Regions from separate parts of the Homo sapiens genome. Here region 2 is linked to region 1. A link means that fine-mapping ties the variant in region 1 to the plasma level of a protein whose gene starts in the linked region. Region 1 holds a variant in brackets. A gene starts in the other region. All regions are shown on their forward strands.

Evidence for each region. PIP is the posterior inclusion probability: the model's chance that the variant is causal. Protein levels are from antibody-based Olink assays in UK Biobank. Linkage for the fine-mapping came from a reference panel and not from the study's own genotypes, which makes the PIPs less certain.
Region 2: MSLN starts here. The variant in region 1 is fine-mapped to the plasma level of the MSLN protein (UK Biobank, PIP 0.96).

Annotation. Positions count from the first base shown.
Region 1 is chr2:25,498,466-25,501,370 of GRCh38, forward strand. All of the region lies in intron 9 of DTNB (dystrobrevin beta), which reads right to left. Among named protein-coding and RNA genes, the nearest start is that of DTNB-AS1, 79 kb to the left of the region's middle. RefSeq lists an enhancer at 645-789 and a cis regulatory region at 717-727. The variant G/C (reference allele first, on the strand shown) is at 1,704.
Region 2 is chr16:759,149-762,053 of GRCh38, forward strand. MSLN (mesothelin) reads left to right here and starts at 1,586. Exons shown (of 18, transcript NM_005823.6): 1 at 1,586-1,673; 2 at 1,925-2,026. RefSeq lists promoters at 167-2,016, 1,522-2,002, 1,524-1,542 and enhancers at 833-1,358, 1,524-1,542.

The DNA of each region.
Region 1 (2,905 bases):
TCTTTCAAGGCTACAAACTCTAAGGATATAGATGAGGGACACAGTGCAGAATGTGAAGGGCAATGTGAACAATAATGGGTAAAATTAATTACAGGAAAAAACTACAGACCGAGTGCAGTGGCTCACTGGGAGCACTCTGGGAGGCTGAGGCGGGTGGACTGCTTGAGCCCAAGAGTTTGAGACCAGCCTGGGCAACATGGTGAAACCTCATCTCTACAAAAGAAATACAAAAATTAGCCAGGTGTGGTGGTGCATTCTTGTGGTTCCAGCTATTCAGGAGGCTGAGGTGGGAGGATTGCTTGAGCCTGGGAGGTTGAGGCTGCAGGGAGCCATGATCATGCCATCACACTCCAGTCTGTGCAACAGAATGAAACCCTGTCTCAAAAAAAAAAAAAAAAAAAAAAGATCTATAGAATGTTTGAGATTATGAGATTGAAATACCATAATTTTATAATGAAAACATATCAAGGTCAGGCATGGTGGCTCACTCCTGTAATCCCAGTACTTTAGGAGGCCAAGGCGGGTGGATCACCTGAGGTCAGGAGTTTGAGACCAGCCTAGCCAACATGGTGAAACACTGTCTCTACTAAAAATAGGAAAATTAGCCAGGCATGGTGGCAGGGTGCCTGTAATCCCAGCTACTCGGGAGGCTGAGGCAGGAGAATCGCTTGAACCGGGGAGGCGGAGGACGCACTCAGTCGAGATCGTGTCATTGCAAAAAAAAAAACCAAACAAACAAAAACAAAAACAACCATATCAGGAAGGAAAGGGGGGCAGTGGAGAGTGGGAAAAAGTTTGGGAAAATTGGTTCTGGCTCCAACTCTGATACTAAGTGGATTATGTGACCTGCATGACTTTGGACAATGAAGCCCTGTGTGTCTCAGCTAACTGGTCTGTGAAATGACAGGGGCTGGTTCTAGAGCACTGATTTTCACATGCTGTGCTCTGGGGATCTGAGGATGCCACATGGTGCTTCAGTGACCATGATGAACAGCAAGGGGAACAGACGAAGGATGTTAGGCCCCAATCTTGTTCCAATAAGGGTAGCTCCACTTCTATTCCACATAACATTTCATAGGAATAAAATGTTCTACTGCTTTTTTAAAAAGTTTGAAAACCCCTTTCCTGACTACAAAATTTAAATTAGAAGTCCCTGCTATATTCTCTCATAGTATCCTCTTCTTTTTAAATAATACTTATCATAATTTGCTATTATATGTAATTAGTTTTTATTTGTTGGTTGGTTTCACTTATGAGCTTGTAAACTTTGCGAGAGCAGGGACCCTAGTACTTGTTTCATCTCTGTCTTCATTGCATTCACAATGTGTACTGAAAACCACAATTGGAACACACTGGTTGCTCAACAAATATTAGTTCAATTATGAATGACTCTCTTATAGCTGAGCTTTTATAATTCTACTTACCATTCTTTTTTTTGGTTTTGTTTTGAGACAGGGTCTTGCTCTTTCACTCAGGCTGGAGTACGCTGGCATGATTATAGCTCACTACAACCTCAAACTCCTGAGCTGAAGGGATCCTCTTGCCTCAGCCTCCCAAGTAACTTGGATTACAGGTGCACCACCATATCCAGTTAATTTTTTTTATTTTTATATTTCTGTAGACATGGGATCTCACTCTGTGGCCAGGGCTGGTCTTGAACTTCTGGCCTCAGCAATCCTCCTGCCTCAGCCTCCCAAAGTGCT[G/C]GTACTACAGGAGTGAGCCACTGTGCCAGGCCATCTACTTACCATTCTAATCTACCTTAAGCAATGTATTGGCTGAAACCCAAAAGTGTCAATTGGTCGGGTGCTCAACTGACATGAATTTTAAATGGAAAAGATATCCAGACAAGGAATTCAAAGAAGGCTGGTAGATAAGCCATTTGGGATAGCAAAAATCTGTGAGTGGGAGGAGTAATGAGGCCTAAACAGGCACACACCCAACAGAGGCAGCAGCGCTCCTCATGCGTACTAAACACATCAGGCCAACTACGCTGTTCAATCATTCTTAGCATCTCATTTCTGGACCAAAAGAACCTAAAAGAAATGTAAAATGCCCCAAGACATTAGAGAATTTGCCAAGGGAAAGAAAAACCACCTACCATTTCATTAAAATGTGTATCTAAGTCTCTGCTGAAAAGACCACACAGAGACCTTGGGAGACAGTGCTTTGCCAGTGAACTATAAATCAGCTGCAGAAGTAGTCCAGGGACTTCCAGTACAAGGTAGTAGAGTGAGCACATGCGGAGAGCTCACCCTCCTGTGCCAAAAAAAAAATGACTTAAAGATATAAACATAAATTAATGCATAATTAATGCATGTATAGCTAGGACCAAAACAAAAAAGGAAACTCTGTTTAATGCCTAAACAAAATGAAAAAGTATCCTCTAAGGAAGAAAATGAAGAATCATAGTGGTGAGCAAGGGCTGCTTCTCAGCGGCCATGAGCCACACACACAAGGACTGCTGGCCACTTTTGAGGAGGCTGGAAGAACCTAGGTTCTGACCCCCATGGGGCCCCCCGAAAAGCAGAGAAAACAGAGCATCCAAAAAGGTCTTCAAATACCTAAGATCCTCAGGCCCCTAAAGGATAAAACAGCATCCATCAAATGTTCTGAAAAATAACCAATTAGAGGCTTTAAAAATGAAAACCATAGTTATTGAGACAAAAAACAAAACAAAACTGAATACAGCTAAAGATTGATGAACATAAAAAATAAGTTAAATGTAAAAGCTAGATCTAGAAGTTTTTTTTTTTCTTTTCTCTTTTGAAACAGGGTCTCACTCTGTCACCTAGGCTTGAGTGCAGTGGCAGGATCATAGCTGCCACTGCAACCTCGAACTCCTCAGCTCAAAGGATCCTCCTGCCTCTCAGCTTTCCAACTAGCCGGGACTACAGACACATGCCAC
Region 2 (2,905 bases), not on the chromosome of region 1:
ATGACAGGCGTGCGCCACCACACAGGGCCTCATTTAAAGATTCTTTATAGAGATGAGGTGTCACTACGTTGCCCAGGCTGGTCTTGAACTTCTGGCCTCAACGGACCCTCCCGCATCGGCCTCCCACGGTGCTGGCTGAAGGGTGAGCCCAGGCTGGCCACAGCGCGTTTTCATCATTGTCCGCAGCTTGCAGTCGGCTGGTTCAGAGCTTAGCCGGGCACATGGGCCCCTCTGAGGCTCCTGTTCAGGGCTCAGCCGTGTCTACGGGGCCCTCCGAGCTCTTCCTGGACCCTCCTCGGCTCCTTCAGTTCAGGGCTCAGCTGGGCACGTGGGCGCCTCCTTGGCTCCTCCGGCTCAGGCCTCTCCTCGAGCTCTGGGCCCTGAGTATTCTGGGCTCCTTCCTTGGTTTCCTTTGGCCTTTGGCCGGGAAAGTTGTGGGTGTCCGTGGCAGCCTGGGCCACTTCACAGCCCCGCAGCCAACCTGCGGCTCCTTCAGAGCAAAGCTGTGTGGACACAAAGGGAACGCCACTCGGAGCTGGCCTCTCCCTTTACCTGTGAGTTCCCGCCCAAGCCGGCTGCCTTCTGTCCCCTCCCCAGAGCCCTTGGGTAACTGGTTTGCTACAAGAGTGTCTGGAATTTTTCAGTTGTTCTCTGCGGAAGGGAGTTTTTAAAAGGCCCTTAATCCCTTCTTGACATTTGTAAGTTGACGCTTACACCTGGCAGCCTTGCTGAATTCTGTGTGCGTGAAGGTCCGATTCCACCGCGAGTCACGATAGAAAACCCACTCTGTGGAGAGACCAGAGATGACCGCCGCGCACACCTCCGTTCAGCACACAAACCTTTGCAGGTGTTCATAGCGGAGGCAGATTCCGTACTGGGGATAAGAGCTCACGACATGCTGGGAGGGGTTTCAGGGGCAGGGAGGGGGCTTCTGTGGCCCCAGGTCAGGAGGAGCAGCTCTTCCATCAGCAGCAGGCAGCCAGCCCAGATGCGTAGGGAAGACAGCTCCCACTTCGCCAGGCCAGAGAGCGCCCGGGGGCAGCTCTGTTCCAGTCGACCCTGCGAGAAAGGGGTGTGCGTGTGCCTGGAGCTGGGCCCCGTCCTGCCTCCCTGACCTGTGTGCTCCCACAGCCCTGAGACGGACGGCTCACAGCCTTGCGAGGCCCACACTGCACTGGGGGTCAGGCTTGTGCTCCCGGGAGTCCTGTCTGGGCTGCGTGGCCACCATCCAGAGCCTGCTGACCTGCGACTGGGGGGGCCAGTGCTCCCTGGGTTTCAGCACCTGAGAATCAGAGTGGGATCCCGTGAAACCTGGGCCCAGGCTCCCACCCACGCCCCACACCCACCCAGGGAAGCCATGAAACCTGGGCCCGGGCTCCTACACATGCCCCACACCCACCCAGGGCAGCCGTGAAACCTGGGCCCGGGCTCCCACCCTCGCCCACCGAGGGCAGCTTTGCCTTCCTGGGCATCCCTCCTCCCCCAGGCCTGGCCCGCTGCCTGTCCAAGGCTCCTGTGCGGGGTCTCCACCCACACATTCCTGGGGCGTGAGGCGCCACCACTCCCTGCTGCCCCGGGCAAAGCCGTCATTTGTTCCCTTTGACGGCCCGGGAGGCTGCCAGGCTCTCCACCCCCACTTCCCAATTGAGGAAACCGAGGCAGAGGAGGCTCAGGTGTGGCCAATCACCCTGCACATCAGAGTTACCCTGGGCAGGGCCCACTGAGACCTGGGAGGGGCCACTCGGGACCTGGAGGGCTGGGGGCTGCCCGGGCGTTAGGGGTAAAGCTCCCTACCCAACTGCGCAGAAGGCCTCAGAGGCCTGGGGGCTGGGCTTCCCCTTTCACATCGCCCTTTAGAGGCCCACGTGTGGGCATTGGCCCGCGATCTGAAAGGGGCTGTCCTGTTCCTCATGGGCGCTGCCAGCGCCACGCACTCCTCTTTCTGCCTGGCCGGCCACTCCCGTCTGCTGTGACGCGCGGACAGAGAGCTACCGGTGGACCCACGGTGCCTCCCTCCCTGGGATCTGTAAGTAACAACCTTTGAGCTCTTCCTGTTGTGGTGTGGATGGAATCTGCACCTTCCATCTGGAGAACTGGGGCCGCCCCAGGCCGGGCTTCCAGCACCAGAGCGATGGTCAGGCTTCAGCTGGACGCAGATTTCACCCCGCAGGGCACACGCAGACCCATTTGTTTGGAAGCGGCAGTCCTAAGGCAGTGCAGGTGCCTCCACGGCCCCAGCCCAGCTCTCCTGCAGGTGTAAAGGATGCAGATTCCAGGGCCCCCCATGGCCTGCAGAGGCCCCTCAGAGCAGGAAGGGCCGGGCTCTCGGGGAGCCCCCATCCCAGGTGCTGAGGTCCTTGGGTCACATGGAGCTGGGGTGGGGAGTGCCCAGGTCCCCTGTGATCCGATGGCCACGTTTCCCTCCTGGCTTCACGCACCCCAAGGGCTGGGGGTCCCACTCACTGCCCATTTTCTGGCTGTGGGGGGGGTCTGTTTTCTTCCACCTTCTCAAGGTGTTCAGAGCCTCAGGGGCCTCCCCACTTCCTCTGGGGCCTGGGGGAGTAGAGTCTGTCACCCGGAGGCTGTGTGCCTCCCCGCGACATTCCCCAGTGGCCGGGCCGACCAGGCAGGCTCTGCCTGTGGATGGGGCTGCTGAGCATGAGCGTGTGACCCCCATTTCTGAGCTGTGGGTGGACCCACCGGGCCTGGGCCAAGGTTTTCAGGAGGCAGCTCTATTCTACTCCGCCATGGTGGCCTCCCTGAAAGGGGTGAGTGTAGAAGCCAGTTCCCTCTTCTGCGAGCCCCACCCCTACCCCAGGAGGACAATTCTTGTTCAGGGAGGGTCTCCCCACCCACTTCCCCACCCCACAGTGGCCCACAGGCCCCACCCTAGAGAGTACAAGGG